Regions from separate parts of the Homo sapiens genome. Here region 2 is linked to region 1. The links come from fine-mapping of genetic effects on gene expression. Tissue or cell type: whole blood. Region 1 holds a variant in brackets; the other region holds the start of a gene. All regions are shown on one strand. Distances are between the middles of the regions.

What was found. PIP is the estimated chance that this variant, and not a neighbour inherited with it, causes the effect.
Region 2: it holds the start of ZBTB18, and the variant in region 1 is fine-mapped to the expression of ZBTB18 in whole blood (TOPMed, PIP 0.93).

What each region holds. Positions count from the first base shown.
Region 1 is chr1:244,251,607-244,259,712 of GRCh38, forward strand. It overlaps LOC105373262 (a long non-coding RNA gene), which reads right to left. Exons shown (of 3, transcript XR_949343.3): 2 at 2,045-2,107. Among named protein-coding and RNA genes, the nearest start is that of SPMIP3, 97 kb to the right of the region's middle. The variant G/A (reference allele first, on the strand shown) is at 3,586.
Region 2 is chr1:244,047,925-244,056,030 of GRCh38, forward strand. ZBTB18 (zinc finger and BTB domain containing 18) reads left to right here and starts at 3,359. Exons shown (of 2, transcript NM_205768.3): 1 at 3,359-3,520; 2 at 5,864-8,106. The coding sequence starts at 3,508. The coding sequence ends at 7,446. LOC124904570 (a long non-coding RNA gene) reads right to left here and starts at 317. Exons shown (of 2, transcript XR_007066975.1): 1 at 87-317. RefSeq lists enhancers at 1-157, 2,368-2,417, 4,134-4,635 and silencers at 328-447, 2,598-2,687.

The sequences.
Region 1 (8,106 bases):
ATGTATGAACAAATGGGTATGGCTATGTTCTAATAAAACTTTATTATAGACACTAAATAATAATAATAATAGCTCCTATTGATTAAGTGCTTGCCATGTTCTGAGCAGAGCTAACTGCTTTAACATTTGGTTAAGTGCTGGGCCAAGAGCTCAGAATATGATTAGGAAAATGACACAACCTCTACCTCCTTACTTCCTGTACACTTTCTTGTGTAATCCTCATAACCAACCTATCACTAACCCTATTTTGTAGTTGAGGAGACTAAAGTTATGTAGCCACTCAACATCAGGCATCTAATAAGTGGCAAAAAAAAAAGGATTTGAACTCAGTGTGTCTGATTTTAGAACCTGTTTCCATAACCCCCACACTCTAGGGCTTGGAATTCTATTGACAGCAAAAGCATCTTCCAGTCTCACAGGACTGTGGGGCTGTGGTGCAGTCCTGAAAGGAGCATGCATGTGAGGAACACCACGCGAGAGGCCCATGAAAGGACAGGACAGCCTGGAGTCCCGGGGGAAGCTGCTCCCCAGCACCTGGCATTATGGCCGGTGTCATGGTCCCATGTTGGGTTTGCAAAGGACTCAGAGCCTTGAGCCAAGCGGCAGGAAGCAATTTCAGTCTTTGGCCCAGACCACCAGGCCTCGAAACCTTTCTATCTAATTAAACTTCCATTGCCTTTCATTTCTGCAGCCCTCCTTACAGGAATACTCTCTTTAAAATAAATAAATAAAAGATATGGGAACTGATGGAGTCAACTAAGAATTTCTCTAATTTCCACATCTAACTCCTATGAATAACTCACTTGGAAATGGGCGTGGTCTGTCTAGGCATGATTGTGTTTTGCATAAACTCTTATGCATGAAGTGGCTCTATTTGCAACTAGACAGGATCCAAATTTCAGAAACACTTTAACAACCGACTATAAAGTTTATTAAAAAATAAAAAATAGAAAAGTCATTTCACCTTTTGCCCGCAGTAAAACTCTGGGAATGGACTCTCCTGGCCTCAAAGCTTTCTTTTCTTCTCTGCAGAAGCTGCTGAAGACACCCTCCACAGGCTTAGCCTACCCAGGTTACGGCACCCTGCCTGCTGCACTCAGGGAACTCAAGGTGTTGCCTGTTCAACGTTTGAGCAGAACCAGAGTCATGGCTTACGCTAGCTGTGACTTTGTACCCCAGTTCTGGTCTCTGAGTCCCTGCCTGGGGTATCCATGCAGTACCCAGGCCTGCTGCTTCCTTGTGGGCTAACCTGGGGAGGCTGGCTGCCTGCCACCATCATGCTGCCATGCTCAGAACCTGCTCAGGCTCGTCTCTGGAAAGCTCCTTCACAGCCATTGCCCATCTCCTTTTTTTGTTTGTTTTTTTTCTTGAGACGGAATCTTGCTCTGTCCACCCAGGCTGGAGTGCAATGGCACAATCTTGGCTCACTGCAATCTCCACTTCCCGGATTCAAGCGATTCTCCTGCCTCAGCCTCCTGAGTAGCTGGGATTACAGGCACCTGCCACCACACCCAGCTAATTTTTGTATTTTTTAGTAAAGATGGGGTTTCACGATGTTGGTCAGGCTGGTCTCGAGCTCCTGACCTCAGGTGATCCACCTGCCTCGGCCTCCCAAAGTGCTGGGATTACAGGCGTGAGCCACTGTGCCCTGCTCCCTTTCTCCTTTTACTCAGCTTGTCCCAAACTTCAAGGTACAGAAGAATCACCTGGGGATCTTGTTAAACTGTGGGGTCTGGCTTGGTAGGCCTGGGATGGGGGCTTGAGAATCAGTGTTTCTAACAAAGCACCAGGGTAGGTTTGGGAAATAGTTCGAGTCTATGCAGCGTCAAGGATGATGGCCAAGCAGGTGAGGTAGCCACTGGCCACTACTATTTTTGCCTGCCCAGAACATGTGCTTTTTCCCTATTTTTTTAAGCCCAATAATGGGCACATAGCTCAGTTTGCACCAATCAGAGTCCTGCCCAGAAATGAGGTATGAATGGTGGTGGGAGTGGGGAAGAAGGGGTAAGTGGGAGCAGGCTCTCTTTTCCCTGGGGTTACTAACCTGGGAGGGTTGCTTGTAGCGCATGCAGGAAGTCCATTGTCAGTGATCAAGAATGAGTTGAACCTACAGAGAGAAGTGAAAAGGGTGGAGATGCAAGGACATCATTTGAGCTCCTGCATCCAGTCACACCTGAGGCCAGATGCTCCAGCCTTCCAGTTATACGAGCCCATAAATTTGCTTTTTCACTTAATTTAATTCTTGTCACTTGTAAATAAAAGAGCCCTGAGTTATATAGTGGGTAAGGCAAGTTGGGGTCAAAAAACAAGGTATAGAGTGATAATGGTTCACATGATGATTCTAAAAGTAATTCCTGGCCGGGTGCAGTGGCTCACGCCTGTAATCCCAGCACTTTGGGAGGCCGAGGTGGGCGGATCACTTAAAGTCAGGAGTTGGAGACCAGCCTGGGCGACATGGTAAAACCCTGTCTCTACTAAAAATACAAAAAAATTAGCCAGGCGTGTTGGCGGGCACCTGTAGTCACAGCTACTCAGGAGGCTGAGGCAGGAGAATGGCGTGAGCCCGGGAGGCAGAGCTTGCAGTAAGCCAAGATCATGCCACTGCACTCCAGCCTGGGGGACAGAGCAAGACTCCATCTCAAAACAAACAAAAAAGAACATGATTAAGTATGGAGTCCTAAGGGCCTGACCTCCAAGTGCCACAAAAAGCGAACTTGAGCTCCTTCATCAGGCGATGTTTGCTCATGCCTTTTCCTGATGATACTGAAAAAGTTCGCAGAAGCTCCACATGTCCAACTGCTTTTTCCTGGACGTTTAGTTATACAGGTAAAGCTGAAAGTAAACAGCAGATTTGGACTCAAAATCAGCTCCATAAATGGCCTCATTTCCAGGCACAGCCCTTGATGTCATCTCTGAAAGGTCGTCGTCCCAGCCCTGGAGGGATTTACTGAGGCCCCAGGATCTGAGCTCATGTCCAGATCTGTGAAAAGCAAAGGACATGCATGCAAAATAGATTGAGGCCGCATACGCCCAAGTCGCTGGGGAAGGGACAGGCATGTGGTGAGCAAAGAGGGAAGAGGAGGTTTCCTGCTTCTCTCTGTGACTTCCCTATTTCAGATAACAGCAGCCCCACCCTGCTGGGCACTCAGGTTCAAAATGTCAGAGCCTTGGGACTCTTCTTTCTCCTTTTCATATTCCTCTGCGCTGCATGCAGGAGAGTGATTCTATCCCAGGGCCAACTCTGACAGCCACCTCCTTCTCTCCATTCTCTCTGTTGCTGCTTTTTTCAGGCCTTCATTATTTCCCACCCGAACCACAGTGGCAATGGCCTTGTAGCTATTCTCCTCAAATATATTTTTCATACTTCACCAGGTCCAGTGAAATGTTTTGAGGACTTACTATTGACTCACTCAACCCTGGGGCAGATTGTATTTTCCAAAGATGCCACATATCCCATTTTACATGTTCTCACAATATGACTGACATTCTTGCCATCAAGAGGTGAAGTCCACGTTCCCTCCCCTTGAACTTGGAAGGGCTTGAGACCCAGCAGAAGTGATGCTATGTGACTTCTTCCAAGACTAG[G/A]ACCTAAAAAGTGGTACTGTTTTTGCCTGGTTTTCTTGGGAAACTTGCCTTCAGGCCATCAGTTGCCATGTAAGTACGAAACCGCCATACTGTATGGAAGCCCAAGCCACATGGAGGTGCCATGTGTGGGTGTTCCTAGTGTGAGGTCCTAACTGACAGCTGGGAATGTGCATGAACGTATCTCTAAATGATTTCTTCCCCCAGTGGGCTGGTCACCGCCACCCGCCCTCCGCCCCCTGTCACTTTTCAGTTCTCCCAGTCGAGGCCATAGACATCATGGAGCTGTGCTTTCCTGACCTACAGAATCTGTCAGCATAATAAAATGGTTGTTTCTGTTTTCTCTGGGTGCAGTGACTCACACCCATAATTTCAGCACTTTAGGAGGCCAAGGCAGGAGGATCGCTTGGACTCAGGAGTTTGAGACCAGCCTGGGCAACATAGTGAGATCCCTGTCTCTGTAAAAAAGCCAAAAAAAAAAAAAATTAGCTGGGCATGGTGGTGCATGCTTGTAGTTCTAGCTACTCAGGAGGCTGAGGTAGGAGAATTGCTTGGGTCCAGGAGGTTGAGGCTACCACGAGCCAGTGAGCCACAATCACAACACTGCACTCCAGCCTCGGCAACAGACTGAGATCCTGTTTCTTAAAAAAAAAAAAAAAAAAAAAAAAAAAAGAAGATTATTTTAAGTTCCTAATTTTGGGGGAAATTTGTTACATAGCCAATAGCCAATAGATAACCGATATTTTATTTTAAAATGCCTTAATGTGTACACAAACCCTCTGTCAATCATCTGGTTACAAATAGCTCCTGCAGGGAGCTATTTACAAAAGAGGTGAGGTTTCCACAGCTATGAGACCCTGAAGAGAGGAGCTGATCCGAGGGTAAGCCAGGCATTTCTATGCATTTTTTTTGTCTTTACTATGTGCCAGGCACGTTACAGACCTTATCACATCCAAATCTTCAACATGATGGCTATGAGGTTAATTATCTTCCTTAATAGTTATAGAAATTGAAGCTCAGAGGGGAAACATAAATTTCCCCAAAGTGGCCAAACAGGAATCCAAACCTGGGGCCTGATGACGCCGGAGCCCTCGCAGCGCCTACCGCGCCTCTGGAAGAGCCGAACCCAAGAAAGAGAGCACAGAGGAGCACTCAGCATCACTTTGCTGCTCTTACCTTTCCCAGCACATGACTGAAATCACTCCTCTATTTGGAATGAAGGAAAAACAAAGCAGTCTGGTCTGGCTAGAGAAAGCCCCCGGCCACAATGTCGAACAAACCGGGAGTAATTTGTCTCTGTTCTTTTCCATGTGACTGCCGGAGGTTATCCTGGTTTTTATTAGTCCAAACTTCCCTTTTCAAAAAATAATTCCTTGAAATCTTCTGGGAAATTAACATGGCTCAATCTGGCTCTGGGCTGGCCACCACATGCTCACAGAATTAGGAGAACCTGAGATTTTAACCCTTCGTAGCCACACACACATACACACAAAACCACATGTGCCTCTATAGCTGTGTTGTTTAACAGGCTGTAAAGAGAATATTCACACTGGGTGAGCGGTTAGGTTCAGCTTTATCCTGGAAAAAATTTCATCTCTTAGATTTGTTCCAATCCAAGAGTTTTACACGGTGTGCAGATTGAGTTACACATCAGTGCACAGCACAGGAATCCTTTATTTAAGAAATATCAGGAACTAATTAATATACAAGGTTAGGTAATTTAAATAACAATTATTTTCAAATATTTTTTAAAGAAAATATATTAAGAATAAGTAATATAAAATTACAGAGCCGGGCAGGAGGGTTCACCTGGTGTAATCCCAGGGCTTTGGGAGGCTGAGGTGGGAGGATTACTTAAGACCAGGAGTTTCTGACCAGCTTGGGAAACATAGTAAGACCCAGTCTCCAAAATAATAAAATAAAATAACTACAATAGCAACTTTAAATTCCAATTCTATTCTGTACTATAGTCAATTACATAAAAAATGTTCTTCATTTTTCTCTTATAATTTTTTTTTTGAGATAAGGTCTCATTCTGTCACCCAGCCTAGAGTACAGTGGCACAGTCATAGCTCACTGCAACCTCAAACTCCTAGACTCAAGCAATCCTCCTGCTTCAGTCCCAGGTAGCTAGAATTACAGGTGTGCATCACCATGTCCAGCTAATTTTTAAATTTTTTGTAGAGATGGGGTCTCACTATGTTGCCCAGACTTGTCTTGAACTCCTGGCCTCAAGCAAACCTCCTGCCTCGCCCTCCCAAAGCGCTGGTATTACAGATGTGAGTCACTGTACCTGGCCCATTTTTCTTTACTTTTATTTTCTATCTAATTGGGAACTTTTGAGATTATTTACAGTGTCATAAGAATTATAAAAAGGTGGCCAGTTGCAGTGGCTCACGCCTGTAATCCCAGCACTTTGGGAGGCTGAGGTGGGCAGAACCCCTGAGCCAAGGAGTTCAAGGCCAGCCTTGGCAACCTGGCAAAACTCTGTTTCTACTAAAAGTACAAAACTTAGCCAGGTGTGGTGGTGCATGCCTGTACTCCCAGCTACTTAGGAGGCTGAGGCAGGAGAATCACTTGAACCTAGGAGGCAGAGGTTGCAGTGAGCCAAGATCGCACAACTGCATTCCAACCTGGGCAACAGAGTGAGATCCCGTGTCAAAAAAAAAAAGAATTATTATCGTTACTGGCCAAGTGTGGTGGCTTACACCTGTATTCCTAGCACTTTGGAAGGCTGAGGCGGCCGGATCACGAGGTCAGAAGATTGAGACCATCCTGGCTAACATGGTGAAACCCTGTCTCTACTAAAAATACAAAAACAAAATTAGCCGGGAGTGGTGGCGGGCACCCACAGTCCCAGCTACTTGGGAGGCTGAAGCGGGAGAATGGCGTGAACCCAGGAGGCGGAGCTTGCAGTGAGCCGAGATTGTGCCACTGCACTCCAGCCTGGGCGACAGAGCGAGACTCCATCTCAAAAAAAAAAAAAAAAAAGGTAACAAAATTTAGGCAGCTAATTTCTTGTTCTTTCAGTATTTCCACATATGTTTCTGGCAATTAAAACATCTTTTTCTGCCAGGGTCAGTGGCTCACATCTGTAATCCCAGCATTTTGGGAGGCTGAGGCAAGAGGGTCACTTTAGCCCAGGAGTTCAACACTAGCCTGGGCAATATAGGGAGATTCCATCTCTACAAAAATAAAAATAAATTAGCAGGGCATGGTGGCACATGCCTGTAGTTCCAGCTACTCAGGAGGCTGGGGCAGGAGGATCATTTGAGCCCAGGAGTTCAGGGGTGCAGTGAGCCCGTGATTGCACCACTGCACTCCAGCCTCTGTGTCAGAGCAAGACCTTGTCTCAAAAAAGAAAAAAAAAATTGTTTTTCTCTGGGAAGTTTGGTGGAGTGGAACAGGGGAGAGAACAAGCCCCCTATCCCTCCACGTCCTCTCCTCCAGCATCGTTCTTACAATGAAGGATGGTCTTTGCAGCTGATATCTTCTTATACTCCCCTGTTCCTTTCCTGGGCAGATGTCCTGGCGATACGGCCAAGGACATCCCTCTGGGAGCTGAGAGTGGAAGTGGGAGCCCTTTATTTTTGCCCAGCGCCGGCATCAAGGCTGTCCTCAGAACTACCTGAAACATAACAGTGCACAATTCACTGGAGGAGGAAGAGTGTGGAGAGCCTCAAAAAGAAGACAGGATCCTGGGGAAGCCAGTGCAGGGACGTCACGCTCTGTCTCACACGCCTTGACTGCAAAGACATAGCACTGATAGGTAAGAAACAAATCAAAAGCAAAATAACTGGGCTCAACATAATTACCTCTGTTATCAAAACAAAAAGTGGTGAAACTAGCATCCTATAGGAAGGGACAGCCTAAAATTTGCATCCTGCAGAGCAGGGGAATTACTAGTGCTCCATATGACAGGGGAAGTGGAATAATTTTCATTGCAGGCAGGGACTCGGATGGGTGATGAAAGAAATCGAAAAAGTAAGCTGCTGACACAATAGCATCTGGGGCTTCAGCTTTGTACGCTGTGGAAAGGAAGCGTTTGTGACAAAGAACCTAAATCAAATGTCGTGTCTGTGGATATGATAGCCCTAATGTTGCTAGGGTAGGTATGTTGGCTAATTTCATGTGTCAACTTGACTGGGCTAAGGGATGCCCAGGTAGCCGGTAACCCATCATTTCAAGGTCTGTCTGTGAGGGTATTTCTGGAAGAGATTAGCACAGGAGTCAGTAGACTGAGTGAGAAGATCTCCCTTACCCATGGGGTGGGCACCATCCCATCCAGTGAAGGCCCAAATAGAACAAAAAGGCAGACGAAGGTGATGGATTGGCTCACACTCTTTGAGCTGGGTCATCCGTTTTCTCTTGCTCTCAAACATCAGAGGTCCTGGTTCTCAAGCCTTTGCACTTTGCACTGAAAGAAAATGACACCACCAGCTTTCCTGGTTCTCCAGTTTGCAGGCAACAGATCACGGGACTCCTTGGCCTTCATAACTGCAGGAGCCAATTCCCACAACAAAT
Region 2 (8,106 bases), 200 kb before region 1:
CACCCCCACAGGAAGGAGCAGAGAGAGCCACCCGAAGTCGGCCTCGAGTCATCCGTGTCCCCGGGTGCCCTGCCTCTCCAGGATACCTGCGTAACTCGCAGCAGCCAAGCCCCACTACGTTCAAAAGTGTGTTTGTGGTTGTCACAGTGCACACCGAAAAGCTCGCTCCGCACCCGCAGAGTGCGCGGGGCCTCTGAGCCTGGAAACAAGCCCCTCCCAGCGCAGCTGTCGCCGCCGCCTGCGGGCTCCTTTCACTTTCTCACGGCCAAGTCACCCAGAGGGGCGCCGCTGCTGCCACCGCCGCTGCGCCCGAGGACTCCGCCCCGCGCCGCTTCGCTCCGGATCCCCGCCCGCCCGAGCCCCGCCCACCCCAACAGTTGCTGCCTGCGATTGGAACGCGCGGGAGGGCAGCTACGGCTCGCCACCCCCATTGGCTGGGCCCCCTTGTCAGTCCGACGACTGCCCACCACCCCCTCCGCCTTCCCGAAGAGCCGCCTTCCCATTGGAGGAGTCTGAGGGCTGGGGGCGGGCGGGGAGCGCCGGTCCAGCCGCTTTCGGTCAATCGCAGAAGCCCAACGCCCGGAGGGAGGGAGGCAGGGGAAGGAGAGGGGCGGACTGAGGGTGGGGGGAACATCTGGCCGGCGCCGCCGCGTGCGTGCGTGGTGCGTCCTCCCGCCCCCTCCCCTCCCCCTCCCCCGCGCCCGCCCCCCCCCCGCCCCCGCCCCCCCACCCGGCCCGGCGGCTCCGCGCTCGCTCCCTCGCTCGCTCCCTCGCTGTGTCTGGCAGGCTGCGGCCGCCGCTGGGCTGCTGCCATGGGGAGCCGTTGAGAGTGGGGCCCTCTTCGCTCCGCCGCGCTCCTCCGGCTGCCAGCGGGGGTGGGCGGGAGGGAGGGGCGGGGGGGAGCGGGCGACGGAGCCGGGATTGGGGGGTGGGGGGGCCGGGAGGGAGGGGGGCAAGAGCCGGAGGAAGCCCACCAAGTCCGGCGGCGGCGGCGGCGGCCGGGAGGAGGAGGAGGAGGAGGCGGAGGACGCGGCGGCGGCGGGGACGCGGTGACTTAGGGCCGCTCCGTGTGAGTCCCGGCGCCGGCCCCTGGCCCCTGACCTGGCGCCCCCTCCGCGCCCCGGCACCCCGGCGGGCGGGGGGCGCCAGCTGTGCGGCCCCGGCCGGCTGGGCGGCGCGGGCGGAGGGCGGGCCGGGTCGGGGGCGCCCCCGCGAGTGGAGTTAGTTTGTGTGGTTGGAGCTGTTGGGGCGGCGGGGGGCGGCGCAGCTGCGGGAGGCCCGGGCGCGGGGACGGGGCCGCTGCAGCTGCGGGGTCGGGCGGGGTGCGGGTTCCCGGCTCCGCGCCGCGCCCCCGCGGGCCGGTGCAGCTGCGGCGCGGGGCGGGCTCCCGGCCGGTGCAGCTGCGGTGGCGCCTCTCGGGTGCGGAGGGCGGCGGGCTGGGGGAGGGGGCTTGGGAGCAGCCGCAGCTGCAGTGGCGCCCGGGACGGCCGCGGCTCCGGGGACCGGTGCAGCTGCAGTGGCGCCCGGGGGAGGGGGCCGGCGGGGGAGGGGGCCCTCCCGGGCTGGTGCAGTTGCCCGGAGGCCCCGGGGGCTCGCGCGTCGCGGCATCGGGGAAGCGGTAGCAACCACTCTCCTCCCGCTGGCTGCTTCTTACGACTTTTCTTTTGTTGTTGCCGTGACCCGGGTCTGTTTTCTCCTCTGTTGTTTAAGGTGTTTTCCTGCTGCACCGGCTCTGCGCCCTCCACCTCCTTCCCTGTGGTTTTAACCTTCCTCTTTCCCCGTGTGTTTTATGCACGGCGAACTACGTAAAGATTTGCATTGCTTCCCCACTCGGCACCCCCGCCCCCACCTCTCTGAAAAACAAAACCCCAACCTCACAAAACCTCTATGGATCCGCGGTAGCGAGACGTGAAGGGGTTGATTTGTGGAGTGGGAGTTGCTGGCCCATTGCGGTGCCCGGGACTCATTAAACTGTCACTCACCCCCCACCCCACTGGGTAAATGGGGTGATTAATGTCTGATATATTGGAATGGGTCGAGGGCATTTGTGGAGAATAGGTGGTGTGGCTGGGAAGAAATTGATCTCCCGAGGATGTCTCCTGGACTAAGTGTTCATAATTATGTCACTCACCGCGAAGTTGGAGAAAGTTAGGTTTGTGACTTTGGGAAAGCGAGAAGGACAGGACGGAGTCGTCGGGTTTTGTTACTCTTTAACTCTCCGCCACGGCTTTCTAATGGGAACGAAGTGGTTATCACCAGGGCTGGGACGCTGGCGCCTCAGGCCCCAGTTCCTTTTCTACCCCTCGCCCTCCCAAGAGTCTGAGGAGATGTATTTGACATTCAGAGATGTCGCAGCACCCTGCCCGGTACCGGTCAGCCCAGCCCGGGTCGCGTTACAGTTTCATCAGCTATTAGAAAAGACCCACAAACTGGCTGAAAAGTTCTCAAACTTACTAGACCTGGCTTCCCCCCACACAAAGATTTTCTTGTGATCATAAACATTAGAGTGACCCCCCCCCAAAGAAAAAAAAGATTGTTAAGGGACACAGATCAAGGGGAAGGCAAGGTTCTGCTTTTTCTGAGCAGAAAGATCAGATATGCAGGTGCAGCATTCATTTTAAGTGACTGGAGCAGGTTGTATCAGTTTATTAATTGGTCTCGTTGAACTGAAGTACTTTCCAGGATTTCAGAAAGTGCAGTTTCAGCTTGTTGGTACCGAGAATTGAAATTTGCATTGACTGTGGCAGTGTAAGAAATTTTTCTGAGAAGGTAGTTGTAGATAAGTAATTACATAAGAGTGAAATAATAAGGTGAACCAGTCTGAAGTAATAGTTCTGAACAAGTCTGCCAACATTTGAGACATGTATACCATTATCTCAGCAGAAAAAAATAAAAAAGTGCGGTAATAATGTTGAAATGGGACTGGAGATGTCAAATGGGTTGGTTTAAAAATATCCCTAAACTGCTTTAGAAACTAAACGTTGGAGTTGAATAAAAGTGAATCTGGATTTCCTGAATAGCACCGTGGCTTGAGTGTGCTGTCAGTATGTAAGCCAGTCCACCAACTTAAGACAGAAGTGTTGCTATTCCATAAATACAGTAGAACTCCATATGCTGAGTTTTTCAATTTCTTCTGTTAGAAAGTTTGGAAAAAAAGGAAGACTTTGAAGTATTTTGTTTATACTAACAGAAGAGAAAAGTTCTCCTAAGAAAAAGCTGGTGGCAGGAGTGTAGAGGAGTAGCATATGGCATTAAAAGGAGCACAGCTGGAGGTAGCATTTCCATCTGAACATGATGTCAGAGCAGCTGACAGCCTGCCATCCCTCAGCCTTTTATTCTAACACACAGACAGGGAGTTAGTGTGTGCGGATCTGTGGTGGAGAAGGTATCTCATTCCTCTCTAACATCATCTCCACTTTGCATCTGTCTCTCTTAGTCTGCTTTTTTTCCACCGATGTAACAGACCTGGAGCCAGCAGGACTCAGAGGAAAGGACTTAATCAGGTTTATGTGTCCTAAAGGTAGGAGTAGCAAGAGATTAGATTGAGCATATTTCTGTTTTGGTGTTTTGTTTATTTAATTTTAAAAATCACATTACTTTTCTAACCCAGTTTAGGAATAATATATGAAATTGAGTATTAAATGAACATCTTACTGGAGTTGAAAGTCTTGAGCTTGTTTAGTTTTAATTTTTTATCCCTTTTACTTGAGCGAGTAAATAACTTTAATACACAAATATTTCAAGTTTTGAAATGTTAAGAAAGGCTTTAAAATGCTGCTTTTGGAAATCACGTTGGATTAAAATGCTTTTTTGTTGTTCACTGCTATTTAGATTTGATTGGGGTGGTGGTGGTGGGGAAATAGTAAACTGGAATCCAGCATTCAAACTTATATGAGAAGATTATTCTAGTTAAGCAGCTAGATTGTTGTATAATTAATTCCTCTGTGAAACTTTATTCTTCAAAACATTGAGCAGCACTACTGAAACATACAGCTGTAGTGCTGTTGAAACTGCAGGTTTTTAAGAAGAAGAAAAAAAAACCAAACTTTTGTCCCCAGGAGAATAGTTTGACTGGTTTCCTCATTTCTCTTTCAAATATATATTTAAGAGATCTTTTATTTCAGCATAACAATAATTATTTGCAGGAGTTTTTGTGTTAGCGACTAATTTAGAACTTGTAGATTTGAGCTGCCTGAATTGGCCAGACAGCTGTAATCGCACTCCTCTATTCTTAATCTCTTTATCTGGGCAGCAGCTGCCATATGGCCACAGTCAGCTGGATCAGATGTTTATAAGCTTCCTTCTTCGTCCCTCTCTGTCCTCTCAGCCTCCTAATTTGATCACGGCTACCTTGTGAGCTGCCCTCCAATCTTTATTTTTAGCCTTCTCAAGGATTAGGATTGATGTTAGCTGTGGGGCACTTAAAGTGATTGTATTGTAAATCTTAGTTTATTCTAGCAGTGGCATCTTGCAGAATGTGTCTGGGGTTAGGATAAAGTTTTAGTCTGTCTTGGGCAAAGTGTAGAAGAACAAGAAGAAAGGAAGTAATTTCTGAATATTAAATTAAGTGTATCTATTCCCAAAATGCACTTGCTGAGATGGGTGGTGTGGAGGCTTGCTTCTGGTCACAGGAAAGGGGAAGTCGGGTCTTCTTTATTTTTCAGGAGTTTACCCACTGCAGTTGAATTCTGACCCTTTGTACATCTTTGCCTTTCTCCTCCCTCCATTTCACTTTCCCTCATCACAAAACAAGGGCAATGATGAATATTTGCAAGAATAGAAGCTAGTGGGAAAACAGAAATATATCAAATTATATTGAAACAAAGTATTTTCTGTTGGCTGAGGTAAGGCAGAACCAGGAAAAAAAAAAAGGTTCTCTTTTTCTAAAAAGGCTTAAAAAAAAACGTTGAACCTGTAAAGCTTTTGAGTTTTATTTAAGCGCTGTATGCCTTTATTTTTAAAAGTTTGAATTAATTTCAATATGAAACTCATTTTGCCTTGCAACGGATCAAAGTTTAGATGAGAATTTTCGGAGTTCAGTAAAGCCCCTCTGGTTCCTAATATTCTGAAAGTACAGTTTCTACAAAGAAATGTAACTACTTTTTTCTCAGTTCGTTTTGAAAAATCTTTGGATTTGTTCATAGTAAAGATGATCTTTTCCATCTGTTGGTGCAGCTCCTTCTGATCTCGTACATGTGTGCTATACCTGCAAATCTGAAGGCATTAACATCTGTTTTTATACACAGGGCTTTTGTTGTAACACCCTGACTTTAAAAGTAAGTTGTTTGCTAATTTCTGGACTAATTATGCAATTTCATTTTTTTTTCTTGATTCAGCCAAATGTGTGTGTGTGTGTTTAAACTGTGCTTTCTAAGCACAGTCAGGTAGCAAAAGTAATAAAAAGGATGGTTGAACAAGTTTTCTTGTATGTTCCAGGATATGTTTGGGACTTTTCTTTGTTTATTATATGAGTTGTTCCCTTTGAAATTAAAGCTATTTTGTAGGTTTTGTGGGACATAATTTGATAAGTAGAGTTAATTAAATTTCTTCTGGAAGAGATCTAAATTCTTATTCTTAGTGAGAGACTGTAGTTAAAGGAAGGCTTTTAGAACTTGGGTTCAAGGAAGATGGAGATGCGTCGGAAGCTCTTTGGCGGGGGTGAGGAAGTTCAGAAAGTGTGCATTTTCCTTCTGGCATTTAGGTCTTGTCCGTGTGATTTGGTGGTGCTTGGGTCATAAGCCTGATTAAAATTCAGGGACATGTACCACGGCGGCCAAAGCGGAATTAATTTTTTTATATGGGGACTGGAGCGCTGAAAAGTTGTTCCTGACCAGGCTCTAATGAGAAATTCCTCTCTCCCCAGGTTATGAAGACAGTATGGAGTTTCCAGACCATAGTAGACATTTGCTACAGTGTCTGAGCGAGCAGAGACACCAGGGTTTTCTTTGTGACTGCACTGTTCTGGTGGGAGATGCCCAGTTCCGAGCGCACCGAGCTGTACTGGCTTCATGCAGCATGTATTTCCACCTCTTTTACAAGGACCAGCTGGACAAAAGAGACATTGTTCATCTGAACAGCGACATTGTTACAGCCCCCGCTTTCGCTCTCCTGCTTGAATTCATGTATGAAGGGAAACTCCAGTTCAAAGACTTGCCCATTGAAGACGTGCTAGCAGCTGCCAGTTATCTCCACATGTATGACATTGTCAAAGTCTGCAAAAAGAAGCTGAAAGAGAAAGCCACCACGGAGGCAGACAGCACCAAAAAGGAAGAAGATGCTTCAAGTTGTTCGGACAAAGTCGAGAGTCTCTCCGATGGCAGCAGCCACATAGCAGGCGATTTGCCCAGTGATGAAGATGAAGGAGAAGATGAAAAATTGAACATCCTGCCCAGCAAAAGGGACTTGGCGGCCGAGCCTGGGAACATGTGGATGCGATTGCCCTCAGACTCAGCAGGCATCCCCCAGGCTGGCGGAGAGGCAGAGCCACACGCCACAGCAGCTGGAAAAACAGTAGCCAGCCCCTGCAGCTCAACAGAGTCTTTGTCCCAGAGGTCTGTCACCTCCGTGAGGGATTCGGCAGATGTTGACTGTGTGCTGGACCTGTCTGTCAAGTCCAGCCTTTCAGGAGTTGAAAATCTGAACAGCTCTTATTTCTCTTCACAGGACGTGCTGAGAAGCAACCTGGTGCAGGTGAAGGTGGAGAAAGAGGCTTCCTGTGATGAGAGTGATGTTGGCACTAATGACTATGACATGGAACATAGCACTGTGAAAGAAAGTGTGAGCACTAATAACAGGGTACAGTATGAGCCGGCCCATCTGGCTCCCCTGAGGGAGGACTCGGTCTTGAGGGAGCTGGACCGGGAGGACAAAGCCAGTGATGATGAGATGATGACCCCAGAGAGCGAGCGTGTCCAGGTGGAGGGAGGCATGGAGAGCAGTCTGCTCCCCTACGTCTCCAACATCCTGAGCCCCGCGGGCCAGATCTTCATGTGCCCCCTGTGCAACAAGGTCTTCCCCAGCCCCCACATCCTGCAGATCCACCTGAGCACGCACTTCCGCGAGCAGGACGGCATCCGCAGCAAGCCCGCCGCCGATGTCAACGTGCCCACGTGCTCGCTGTGTGGGAAGACTTTCTCTTGCATGTACACCCTCAAGCGCCACGAGAGGACTCACTCGGGGGAGAAGCCCTACACATGCACCCAGTGCGGCAAGAGCTTCCAGTACTCGCACAACCTGAGCCGCCATGCCGTGGTGCACACCCGCGAGAAGCCGCACGCCTGCAAGTGGTGCGAGCGCAGGTTCACGCAGTCCGGGGACCTGTACAGACACATTCGCAAGTTCCACTGTGAGTTGGTGAACTCCTTGTCGGTCAAAAGCGAAGCACTGAGCTTGCCTACTGTCAGAGACTGGACCTTAGAAGATAGCTCTCAAGAACTTTGGAAATAATTTTATATATATATAAATAATATATATATATATACATATATATAAATAGATCTCTATATAGTTGTGGTACGGTCTAAAAGCAGTCTTGTTTCCTGGAAATAAAAAGTTGGGATATTAACTTGTTTTTGCACTTTAGAATAGCATGAGAATCTCACTAATTTAGCATTCTGATAAAAGAAACTTTAGAGCAAGTCAGAATAGAGAGGTGTTTTTCCTTTGAGGGGATAGGGGAAGTAAGCCAATAAGAACCTTTTAAACAAATCGTCCTGTCACAAAATGCTTTCATATGGCTTAATTTTGTCAACACTGCATTGTCTTTTGAGCTCTTTTTTCCCCCCCAACAAAGTTTTTTTGTTTTTTGTTTTTTTTTTTAAGTAGAAATTCCCTCCAGTTTTATTAGCCTCTTTATATGTCTCAAATTGCATGAATTTTTTCTGGCTGTTGGAAACCTGAATGCTTTTAGACCCAAATGGAAAATTTCTGAAATGCTGGATTATCTATTTTTAAACAAGCAGTTGACTTAAAACTTTCTGTGGCAACTTCTGGTTTTCTGACAGTTCCCAGTGAGAGAAATGCTGAAAGTACACTGGGATCACTGGGACACTGTCTTATGAAGGTTTGCTTGGGATGAAAAAGGATATTGCAGCTTCAGCAGTGTTG